2 separate regions of the Homo sapiens genome follow, and region 1 is linked to region 2. Evidence: fine-mapped QTL for protein levels in blood plasma. Region 2 holds a variant in brackets. A gene starts in the other region. All regions are shown on their forward strands.

Region 1 (4,034 bases), not on the chromosome of region 2:
CTCCTCAGCCTAGAAAGATGCATTTCCCTCATTCCTTTTCCAAATCTCTCTTTTCTCAGTGTATCCTCCTTCACCCAATTCTCCCAGACCCCTTTTTTTTTTTTTTTTTTTTTTTTTGAGACGAAGTCTCGCTCTTGTCAACCAGGCTGGAGTGCAATGGCGTGATCTCGGCTCACTGCAACCTCCGCCTCCCAGGTTCAAGTGATTCTCCTGCCTCAGCCTCCCAAGTAACTAGGATTACAGGCACCTGCCACCATGCCCGGCTAATTTTTTTTTTTTTGAGATGGAGTCTCTGTCACCCAGGCTGGAGTGCAATGGTGTGACCTCGGCTCACTTCAACCTCTGCCTCCTGGGTTCAAGTGATTCTCCTGTCTCGGCCTCCTGAGTAGCTGGGATCACAGGTGCACGCCACCATGCCCTGCTAATTTTTTGTATTTTAGTAGAGACGGGGTTTCACCATGTTGCCCAGGCTGGTCTCGAACTCCTGAGCTCAGGCGATCTACCCACCTCAGCCTCCCAAAGTGCTGGGATTACAGGCGTGAGCCACCGCGCCCAGCCATGGGCTGCAGATATCTTAGTCCAGTGGAGCAGCAGGGTTCAGTAGAGATATGGTTTAAGAACTAGACTGGCTGGGCGCAGTGGCTCATGCCTATAATCTCAGCACTTTGGGAGGCCAAGGCTGGCAGATCACCTGAGGTCAGGAGTTCAAGACCAGCCATGGCCAACGTGGCGAAACCCCATCTCTATTAAAAATACAAAAATTAGCCAGATGTGGTGGCAGGAGCCTGTAATCCCAGCTACTTGGGAGGCCGAGGCAGGCGAATGGCTTGAACCTGGGAAGTGGAGGTTGCAGTGAGCTGAGATCATGCCACTGCACTCCAGCTTGCGCGACAGTGAGACTCTTTCTCAAAAAAAAAAAAAAAAGAACCACTAGGCTATAACTTCCATGCCATTTAGGGTTCATAGTCCCTACTGTATGCAAGAAGCAAACCTCTGCCTTCATATAACAAATGTTTCTAGAGCACCTACTATTTGCCGTGGAATAAAACACACTACCTGCCTTTAGGGGCTTGTGGTTTATACAGGAGAGAGATAATGATTATAATACGCCATGGTTAAGTTCAATGACAGTGGTATGTCCAGAGTTGTGAGAGCTCAAACAAATCATCCCACACACCTGGCTTCAAACATTGAAAATATAAGCCAGACGCAGCGGTGCACACCCATCATCCTAGCTACTTGGGAGGCTGAGGCAGGAGCATTGCTTGAGCAAGGAGTTTGAGGCTGCAGTGAGCTATGATCACACCACTACACTCCAGCCTGAGTGACAAAGTGAGACCTCATCTCTAAAACAGTAAAAATTAAAAAATAAATATTTATATACACAAAAATGTGACTTGTTATTAGCTTTGGTGGGTAAGATTACGTGTAATAATCTTTTCACTAGCTGGGCGCAGTGGCTCGCGCCTGTAATCCCAGCACTTTGGGAGGCCGAGGTGGGTGGATCACCTGAGGCTGGGAGTTCAAGACCAGCCTGACCAACATGGAGAAACCCCATCTCTACTAAAAATACAAAATTAGCCAGGCGTGGTGGCTCATGCCTATAATCCCAGCTACTCAGGAGGCTGAGGCAGAAGAATTGCTTGAACCTGGGAGGCGGAGGTTGTAGTGAGCTGGGATCGCTCCATTGCACTCCAGCCTGGGCAACAAGAGCGAAACTCCAACTCAAAAAAATAAATAAATAAAAAATAATAATAATCTTTTCACTGATGGTTATCTATATTTTCTAAAATGAACATTATCATTATCGTACACTCATACACACCTTTTTTTTAAGTGCCTCATATTTTAACGCAGAGACTTCAGGCCCTTCCCCTTGCCATGCTTCTCCAGTTTTATAATCACTTTTGGTGAAGGGGCCTTTTTTTTTTTTTTAATTGAGAAGGAGTCTCACACTGTCACCCGGGCTGGAGTGCAATGGTGCAATCTCGGCTCACTGCAACCTCTGCCTCCCAGGTTTAGGCGACCCTCCTGCCTCAGCCTCCTGAGTATCTGGGATTACAGGCGCCTGCCACCACACCTAGCTAATTTTTTGTATTTTTAGTAGAGACGGGGTTTCACTATGTTGGCCAGGCTGGTCTCGAATGCCTGACCTCGTGATCCACCCGCGTCAGCCTCCCACCGTACTGAGATTACAGGTGTGAGCCACCACGCCTGGCCCAGTAAAGGGGCATTTTTGTCAGAGGTCCCTGAGCCTAGAACTAAACAGCTAATTCTAGGTCTGATTCCCAATAATAGTGAGATAACTACAAGAGAAAAATACCGTACCGAGGTTCATGTAGCAACTTCCTAAATGATCGTGTAAGTCTTCTCTGGAGCTCCATTCATACTCGCAGCCCACAGTCTTTTGCATTTGGTCCAGTTGGCATTAAGATGCAGTTGTGCATGGTGAAGACTGTGCCACTCTTTGGGGCATGGAGACAGGCCTTGGGATGGACCCCTCTCCTATGTTAACTAATTCCTTTGTTTCTTCTCCTCCCACAATTAGCCTCTGAGAACCAGAATGGGAATGGACTGAGTGCCCCACCAGGTCCCGGTGGTGGCCCACATCCCCCTCATACTCCCTCCCACCCACCCAGCACCCGAATCACTCGAAGCCAGCCCAACCACACACCTGCAGGCCCGCCTGGCCCTTCCAGCAACCCTGTTAGTAACGGCAAAGAAACCCGGAGGAGCAGCAAGAGATAGCATGACATTCTTTCTTCCTGCCACCAACCACATCCCAAGTGTCCCCTGGAGAGCAAGATAGCCTTCCACTGATTGGCTGGTGTAGCAGTATTTTAGCCACTGAACTTCAGTGGAGGGTGGTGAGCAGTGTCCTTATCCACCCTAATCTCATACTCCCTCATTGTCCAGCTGAACTACCTGTCCCCTGGGAGTCAGGACCCTCTGCCTGCTCTCTTTCCTCTTTAGAAATGGCAGTTACTGGCTGGGCGCAGTGGCTCACGCTTGTAATCCCAGCACTTTGGGAAGCCGAGGTGGGCGGATCACCTGAGGTCGGGAGTTCAAGACCAGCCTGACCAACATGGAGAAACCCCGTGTCTACTAAAAATACAGAATTAGCCAGGCATGGTGGCGTATGCCTGTAATCCCAGCTACTTAGGAGGCTGAGGCAGGAGAATCTCTTGAAACCGGGAGGCGGAGGTTGAGGTGAGCCGAAATTGCACCATTGCACTCCAGCCTGGGCAATAAGAGCGAAACTCCATCTCAAAAAAAAAAGAAAGAAAGAAAGAAAGAAAGAAAGAAATGGCAGTTACCATCTGTTTCTTCTGTGTGAGACATGGGAGTCTAACTGAAGTCTCTCCTTCCTAATAAATGTTACCACTCTACTCTGTGTTGGACTCCTTTGCTTTCTGTGGGAAAAGGAAGAGGTTAGCAACTAGGCATTTGGGAAGGTGGGGTGTCCCTAGAAGGTGGAAGGAAAATAGGTTACAGGTAAGGAGGCCCAGGCAAAGCAGACCTGCCCCTTTAAGGTAGTGTCCCTCCCCTACCCCCTCCCTGCAGGTGACCCTTGCCCGCCTGCCTGCCTGCCCCCCCAGCTGGAACCAAGAAGGTTGTGTCCCCCTTCCTCTGGGTGTCCTTGTCTCCTGCTATCAGGTAATGCCAACCTCAACCCCCTGGACCAGTCACCCCGATCAGACTTTGCTTGCCTGATTTTAGGCCAGGTCAGACATCAGAGGAGAGCCCAGATCCTTGTTTCCTCTCCCCCCGCAGGGCTTCCCCTTTCTTGGTCATCGATCCCTAGAGCTCTGGCTCTTTCTCTTCTTGGGGTGAGAAACTGCTAAGAACAGTTTATTTCCCATGCATGCATCTGGGCTTGCCACTGATCTGCCTTTTCCCCCCTCCTCCCCAGGTTAGGGACACCTGGGTCCAACCTTCCCAAGGAATATGGGGATGGGGGTTGGAGATGAAGTTTAGTGCTAGACTGTAAGGTAGGTGGGGTGGAAGTACATGAGGGAAAGGGCTAAAATGGT
Region 2 (8,530 bases):
TAATGCCCTGTAGCTTCCATGCCTCGGTTCCAGCTCTGCCTTCTTCTAACTCTGAATAATAACTATATATTATATATATTATAATATATAATTATATATTATATTATATATTATATTATATATTATATATAATTTATATGATATATATTATAAATTATATATATTATCTATTATATATAATTATATTTATATGTATTTAATACGTATATATAATTATATTGTATATTTATAATATATAATTATATATTACATATTATATATTATACATATATACTATATTATAATTATGTATTTATATCGTAATATATAATTATATTAATTATAATATATAATAAATTATATTATATATTTATAATATATTTATACATTATAAACAAATATGTACTTTATTTGTTAAAGTATATATTATATATAATTTATAGATAAATTAGATATAAATTAAATATAATATATTTAACTTATATATTATATATAATCTATATATTATAAACAATATATTTTATATATTTATATATTTATATTTATTATATATTTATATTATAAATGTATTTATATTATAAATACATTTATAATATAAATATAAAATACATTTATAATATAAATACATTTATAATATAAATATAAAATACATTTATAATATAAATATAAAATACATTTATATTATAAATATAAAATACATTTATATTATAAATATAAAATACATTTATATTATAAATATAAAATACATTTATATTATAAATATAAAATACATTTATATTATAAATATAAAATACATTTATATTATAAATATAAAATACATTTATATTTATTAATATAAAAATAAAATATATTTATATTTAATATAAAAATAAAATATATTTATATTTAATATAAAAATAAAATATATTTATATTTAATATAAAAATAAAATATATTTATATTTATTATAAAAATAAAATATATTTATATTTATTAATATAAAAATAAAATATATTTATATTTATTAATATAAAAATAAAATATATTTATGTTTATTGATATAAATATAAATATATTTATATAGTTTTATTGATATAAATATAAAATATATTTATATAGTTTTATTGATATAAATATAAAATATATTTATATAGTTTTATTAATATAAATATAAAATATATTTATATAGTTTTATTAATATAAATATAAAAATATATTTATATGGTTTTATAAATATAAAAATATATTTTTATAAAATGTAATATATTTATATATTATAAATATAAAACTATATAGTTATAAAATGTAATATATTTATATATTATAAATATAAAACTATATATTTATAATATATAAAGATTATATATAATATATAAAGTATATTGTATATAAAGATTTATATAATATATAAAGTATATTGTATATAAATATTATATATAATATATAAAGTATATTGTATATAAAGATTGTATAGGTTATACAAATTGTAATATATAAATTAATGTAATATTATATATTATATATAAAGATTATATAGATATGGCTGGGCGCAGTGGCTCACGCCTGTAATCCCAACACTTTGGGAGGCCAAGGCAGACGGATCACGAGGTCAGGAGATCGAGACCATCCTGGCTAACACGGTGAAACTCCGTCTGTACTAAAAATACAAAAAATTAGCCAGGCGTGGTCGTGGGCAACTGTAGTCCCAGCTACTGGAAGGCTAATGCAGAAGAATGGTGTGAACCCGGGAGGCGGAGCTTGCAGTGAGGTGAGATCCCGCCACTGCACTCGAGCCTGGGTGACAGAGCGAGACGCCGTCTCAAAAAAAAAAAAAAAGATTATATAGATATATAGATTAACATATAATTATTTAATCTTTATTCTCTATATAAAAATTTATATATAATCTATATCTTTATATGTAGAATATATATTAACTCATACATATTTTATATAAACTATAAATATAATATAATATATAAAAATATATTAAATATAATGTATAAATATAATCTTTGTATATTATTAAACATAATATACAAACATAATATATATATAATATATAATTATTATCCCCATTTTACAGATTTATAAATATATGTATAAATCTGTAAATCTCTATATGTGTATATTTACCCTTTTAGGTTCTCACAGCAAGCCTACGAGGTAGGTGTTGTGAGGATTAAGTGAGTTAATATACATAAAGTGGCCAGGTGTGGTGGTTCATGCCTGTAATCTCAGCACTTTGGGAGGCCAAGGCAGGAGGATCCCTTGAGCTTGGGAGCTGAAGACCAGCCTGGGGAACTTAGTGAGAACTTGTCTCTACTAAAAATAAAAATAACAACAACAACAAAAATCTAAAGTGCTTATAGGAGTGCTTGGCACATAGTCCATACTAGATCTGCGGGCAGCGATTCTCCTTCTTCTTATGCACGAACGAGAGAAACTGAAAACCTATGGAAGATACTTTAGGCTGTTTAAATCCTGCAAATGGGCCAGGCACGGTGGCTGCCACCTGTAATCCCAGCACTTCAGGAAGCCTAAGGCCAAGGTGGGAGGATCACTTGCGGTAGGGAGTGTGAGACCAGCCTGGGCAACATAGCAAGACCCTGTCTCTATGAAAAATAAACATGAATACATCAGTCCTGCAAATGTCTCCAGAAGGTCTGAAACGTGAGAGGATTCCAACATGCCAGGCTGGAATGTCAGCTCCACAAAGAGAGAGATACTGTAGTGAACAGCATCTGCAGAGCCAAGACCACAGCCTAGTCCATAGCAGGCACTCAGTAAATATTGGGGCCTCTGAGGCCTTCTACCCCAGCCCCATCTGAAGGATCAGTTTTTTTATTTTTTGTTTTTATGTTTTTTTGAGATGAAGTCTCACTCTGTCACCCAGGCTGGAGTGGAGTAGCGCAATCTCTGCTCACTGCAACCTCCACCTCCTGGGTTCAAGGGATTCTCCTGCCTCAGCCTCCCGAGTAGCTGGGTTACAGGCACCTGCCACCATGCCCGGCTAATTTTTTTTGTATTTTTAGTAGAGACGGGATTTCACCAAGTTGGCCAGGCTGGTCCGGAACTCCTGACCTCAGGTGATCTACCCGCCTCGGCCTCCCAAAGTGTTGGGTGGCGTGAGCAACCGCACAGGCCGCTGTCAGTTTTTTCTAAGACATCCCAACTAAGTGGCCATCCACTCTCTGCATGCATACCTCTCATAGCGGGGAGGTCACTACCCTCCATACCTGCCCCGCCAAGGGAGCACATTCTCCTTCTGGGTGGTTCCAGTGGATGCCCTGTCGGTTCCACTCCTTGGTCCCAGCTCTGCCTTCTTCCAACTCTGAAGGTAGCGAGCCTCTCCAAACTGTCTCCTGGCCATGGAGGGAGGAGCTCCAGGAAGCAAATCTATCACCTCTCACCTGGATGACTGCAACTGTCCTCTAACTGGTCTCCCTGCATCCACCTAGTCTCAACTCAGCACCCAGGGGATTCCTGTAAAAAAGTTACATCTGGCCAGACGCCATGGCTCATGCCTGTAATCCTGGCACTTTGGGAGGCCAAGGCGGGAGCATTGCTTGAACCCAAAAGTTCAAGACCAGCCTGAGTAGCTGGGATTACAGGCGTGTGTCAGCACATGTGGCTAATTTTTGTATTTTTAGTAAAGACCGGGTTTTGCCATATTAGCCAGGCTGGTCTCGAACTCCTGACCTTGTGATCCGCCTGCCTCGGCCTCCCAAAGTGCTGGGATTACAGGCGTGAGCCACCACACCCGGCTGCTGACTCTATTCTTATAAGAAAAATTTTTTTGTCTGGGCGCGGCAGCCTCACACCTGTAATCCCAGCACTTTGGGAGGCTGAGGAGGGCAGATCACAAGGTCGGGAGTTCAAGACCAGCCTGACCAACATGGTGAAACCCCGTCTCTACTAAAAATACAAAAATTAGCTGGGCATGGTGGTGCGCACCTGTAATCCCTGCTACTCAGGAGGCTGAGGCAGGAGAATCGCTTGAACCCGGGAGGCGAAGGTTGCAGTGAGCCGAGATTGCGCCACTGCACTCCAGCCTGGGCAACAGAGCGAGACTCTGTCTCAAAAAAAAAAAAATTTTTTTTTTTAAAGTTACATCTGGCAGGGCGCGGTGGCTCACGCCTGTAATCCCAGCACTTTGGGAGGCTGAGGTGGGTGGATCACAATCGTGGTCAGGAGATCGAGACCATCCTGGCTAACACGGTGAAACCCCGTCTCTACTAAAAATACAAAAAAAAAAAAAATCAGCTGGACGTGGTGGCGGGTGCCTGTAGTCCCAGCTACTTGGGAGGCTGAAGCAGGAGAATGGCATGAACCCAGGAGGCAGAGCTTGCAGTGAGCCGAGATCGGGCCACTGCACTCCAGCCTGGGTGACAGTGCGAGACTCCGTCT[C/CA]AAAAAAAAAAAGTTACATCCGATTTTCTTTTATTTATTTTTCTCTTTTTTATTACTGAGATGAGGTCTATGATCCTCCCGCCTTGGCCTCCCAAAGTGCTGGGATTACTGGTGTGAGCCACTGTGCCCAGCCTTTTTTGTTGTTGTTATTTGAGACAGGGTCTCACTCTGTTGCCCACTCTACAGTGCAGTGGTGCTATCATAGCTCACTGCAGCCTCGAACTCCTGGGCTCAAGCGATCCTCCTGCCTCAGCCTCCTGAGTAGCTGGGACTACAGGCGCTCGCCACCACTACATCTGATCTTGTCCCACCTCCACTCAAAGCCCTCCAGCTGCTTCCAGCTCAGAGTAAATGCCCAGGCCCTCTGCAAAGCCACTTCCCACTGCCAACAGGCTCTCTCTCCATCCCAGTGTGAGACACTGACCAGCACACCAACAAACCAGCAGACAGTTTTTGCTTTTATTGGTCAAGAATTCTTTACAAAACCCACACACACACATCCACACACACACACACACATGATGCCTGCCCTGCTGTGGTCACTCTGGCCCTGGTGTCTCCTGGGATCAGGCCCTCCTGGCCTCTCCCAGGGGAAACCATCCTGCAGCCCCTCTGGGTCAGCAGTGAAGGAGCAGAGAGAGGGAACCTCCTTTTCTGCTTCTCTGCTCAGGAACAGAGGTCTGTGCCCCACCTGTCGGGGAGCAAGTGGAGGTGACAGAGAAACAGCATCCTCCTCTTTCCACCGTTGAGCCCCCGGAGTTGCCAGCCTAGGCCCCCAATGTCACAGCTGCCAAGGCCTGGGGGTCATCTGCTGATTGAACCTTCCCCATCCCCATTTTGCAGATTGAAACACAGCGGTCCAAAGACAGCGGACGAGTCACCCAAGGTCACGGTGCTGGAGCACAGTGGCAGAGCAGGGACGGGGACTCTGCTCTTCTTGACCTCCAGGAGGTGGCAAGTGTGAAACCTGGACCCTGCTCCACCCCCCAGGGAAGGGCAGAGCCAGGGCCTGGGGCAGGAAGGGAGTGCCCAGAGATGATCCCTGGAGCCCGTGCCCAGGGAAAGCAGCCCCCAGGGCAGCTGAGTGAGCAGCAGGGTCTGGCCAGGACTATAAAGGTTTGCCAAGGGTGCCCTCTGTGACTGCCCGTGTGGCTTGCTCAGGGATGCGGCCCGGGTCGGTCAGGATACTGGTAGATGTGCCCAGCTGGCGTAGGGAGTTCAGGACAGCTGGGTGGGAGACAGAGAGAGAGAGACAGACACTTCCTGGGGTCAGGGCCCTACCCTTGGATGTGGAACCAAAGGGATAGGGGGAGGTATTAGTTGGCAAGACTGTCACCCCCTCCTAGAACCTCTGTCTACAGGCGTCTGGTGGCCAGAGGACCATCTGGGGGATGCGGGGTGGCCACAACCCTAGGCTGTGTTGATGGCAAGCTGGATGTGGGATCTAAGCAGGGTGGAATGCTCCCTCCACCCCCGAGGCTGGGTCCCTCTAGCAGGCAGGGAGATGGCTCACGTACTTGGCCGGAGAGCGGGCAGAGAGCAGTACTGGTCCAGCCAGGCCAGTGAGGTCTGGCGGAGGGTGTGCACACTTGCCGTGGACACCATCCCGTTGAAGGACTCAAACAGAGGCCGGATGAGGATGCTGAACTGGGCCCAGGTCAAGGAGCTGCCTGTGGTCCAGCTGGTCCCCCCACACCACGTGGAGCCCTGATGCCCAGTTCAAACCAGGGGAAGAAAGGGCCTGGACACTGTCTAACGTTGAACCCCAATGACTCATGTTGCAGCCCCTACTTCTTCTTTTTTTTTTTTTGAGACGGAGTCTCGCTCTGTCACCCAGGCTGAAGTGCAGTGGCACGATCTCAGCTCACTGCAACTTCTGCCTCCCAGGTTCAAGCAATTCTCCTGCCTCAGCCTCCTGAGTAGCTGGGATTACAGGTGTGCGCCACCACACCTGGCTAATTTTTGTATTTTTAGTAGAGACGGGGTTTCGCTATGTTGGTCAGGCTGGTCTCGAACTCCTGACCTCGTGATCCACCCACCTCAGCCTCCTAAAGTGCTGGAATTACAGGCGTGAGCCACTGTGCTCGGACTTTTTTTTTTTTTTTTTTTGACAGAGTCTCACTCTGCTGCCCAGGCTGGAATGCAGTGGCACAATCTTGGCTCACTGCAACCTCCACCTCCCAGGTTCAAGCTGTTCTCCTGCCTCAGCCTCCCGAGTAGTTGGGATTACAGGCACATGCCACCACGCTTGGCTAATTTTTGTATTTTTAGTAGAGATGGGGTTTTGCCATGTTGGCCAGTCTGGTCTTGAACTCCTGGCCTCAAGTGATCCACCTGCCTCGGCCTCCCAAAGTGCTGGGATGACAGGCGTGAGCCACCGCACCTGGCTTGCAGTCCCTACTTCTGTCCTGCCAAGACCTTCCCAGCTCTCTGCCTCTCAGTCCCCTCCTCCTTGCCCCTCCACGGCCCTTACTGTGTGCTGAACCATCCCCCATCCCTGAGCTCCCTGCCTGGGCTCAGTCAAGAACTTGACCCCTGAGCCAGATCAGGGAGTGGATTCCAAGTCTTCTGTAGTCCTCACTCCAGAGTTCAGATTCTCCCAAACTGCCCTCGGGGCTTCCTGAGGTCAGGGCCAAGGCTCCCCTTACCCAAGGACTCCTCCCTCAGTTTCCCTCTCTGCTCCCAGCCCCCCATCCCTGGGCAATTTTGCTGGCCAAGATGGCCAGGGCATGGAAGCAGGGGGCAGAGCCAGAGCCTGTCACCTGGGAGCAGCTCTGAGCCTGCCCGGCCTGGAGAGCTAGGCCTCCATCCCAGGCCCAGCCTGGTCTCACCCTGCCACAGCCCCTGCAGCCCCCCAGCCATGGGCTTGAGGGAGGATACCACCCAGAACTTCCAGTTGTGCAGCGTACGGGTTCGGACGTAGTCATCAAACATGTCTCGCATCTGGTCAAAACGCTGGTGTGTGATGGGTACCCCTGTGGCGGGCAGCTGCTGCTGGCACAGGCTGGGGGCAGGGCAGGGGTCAGGGGCTGGGGGTAAGGCGGCATGGCCCCCTGGTCCCAGCACCCGCCTGGACCCTGCCTACTTAATGGCGGCATTGAGCTCCTCAATCTCATCCCGCAGCTGCTGGGCCTCCTCCTGCAAGCCCGCACGCTCCTGCTGTAGCATAAGGATGTACTCAGCTGTCTTCTGCAGCGTGGTAGCTTTGCTCACCTGCAGACGCCACCAGGGGGGCTCAGGCAGGTGCTAGAGGCTGTACCCTGGGACCCACTGAGGCACTGGGATGGGAGGAGGCAAGAGTGTCTGGAGCACTCCCCTGCAATTGAGTTTTGGGTGGGGGGGGTCCAGAAAGGGGCCCTGTGGTTTTGGGGGTGCCAGCCTGGGCCCGGGGCTCACCTTGAGGCTGGGCTGGGCACTGAGTGTGCTCACGAGCCCATGAAGGGTGTCAAACCCCAGCTTGATGTTGAAGCGCCGCTTCTGCTCCGCGGAGATGTGTGTGATACGCCGGTTCTCGGTCTCGGGGAGCAGAGAGTTGGGTGAGCCTAGGAAGGAGCCCAGGAGGGCCTGGGGGTAGCAAACCGATCTTGGGGTGGGGGATGGTGCCCACCTTGTTGCTGTCTGGACGGCCCCGGCTGAGGATGGGTTGCGGGGGAGAGACACGGACGCTCAGAGTCCCAGGGCCTGGCATGGAGCTGAGGTCCCCTGACAGCCGCCGTTCACTGCCTGTGGTAGGGACAGACAGACCCACAGAAAGACCGACCCAGGGGAAAGGGTCCCCATTGCCCCCTTCCTCTCATCTGGCCCCAGACCCAGTCCCCTTCTTCTTCCTCCTCTTCCCCTCATCCCCTAGATTCCCCCAATCCCTGCAACCCCTCTCTTTACCGCTGGGCGCTGGGGGTGAGAGCCGCTCCGCTTTGGGGACAAGCAGGGGCCTGGAAGGGGCCAATGTGGCCGGGCCTGGAGGTGGCCGGGGCGGTGTAGGGGCCGGGGTCGGGGGAAGGAATGTGCAGGGGAATTCAGGGACTGTCTCCTGCTGGGGTGGAGAAGGGCGGAGAGTCGGGTTGAAGGCCGTGGGCACAGCCCCACCGCCCAGTGCCCGAGATCTTACCGGGGACCCTGGGGACCGGAGGAGGGTGCTGGATACAAGTGGTGGCTCCAGGGC

Direction of the effects. Alleles are on the strand shown, and positions count from the first base shown. The strength of an association depends on the size of the effect and on how common the allele is.
For the plasma level of the protein whose gene starts at base 3,586 in region 1, allele C in region 2 goes with a higher level than allele CA (weak association).

Evidence for each region. PIP is the posterior inclusion probability: the model's chance that the variant is causal. The UK Biobank Pharma Proteomics Project read protein levels with antibody pairs (Olink). The fine-mapping took linkage between variants from a reference panel, not from the people measured, so its PIPs are less certain.
Region 1: SLC39A5 starts here. The variant in region 2 is fine-mapped to the plasma level of the SLC39A5 protein (UK Biobank, PIP above 0.99).

Annotation. Positions count from the first base shown.
Region 1 is chr12:56,226,466-56,230,499 of GRCh38, forward strand. SLC39A5 (solute carrier family 39 member 5) reads left to right here and starts at 3,586. Exons shown (of 13, transcript NM_173596.3): 1 at 3,586-3,657; 2 at 3,775-3,830. It overlaps NABP2 (nucleic acid binding protein 2), which reads left to right. Exons shown (of 7, transcript NM_024068.4): 7 at 2,549-3,389. The coding sequence ends at 2,748.
Region 2 is chr7:73,588,389-73,596,918 of GRCh38, forward strand. It overlaps MLXIPL (MLX interacting protein like), which reads right to left. Exons shown (of 17, transcript NM_032951.3): 10 at 8,477-8,530; 11 at 8,251-8,401; 12 at 7,976-8,091; 13 at 7,765-7,884; 14 at 7,454-7,581; 15 at 7,249-7,372; 16 at 5,886-6,015; 17 at 4,814-5,595. The coding sequence ends at 5,477. Among named protein-coding and RNA genes, the nearest start is that of TBL2, 14 kb to the left of the region's middle. RefSeq lists an enhancer at 1-183. The variant C/CA (reference allele first, on the strand shown) is at 4,369.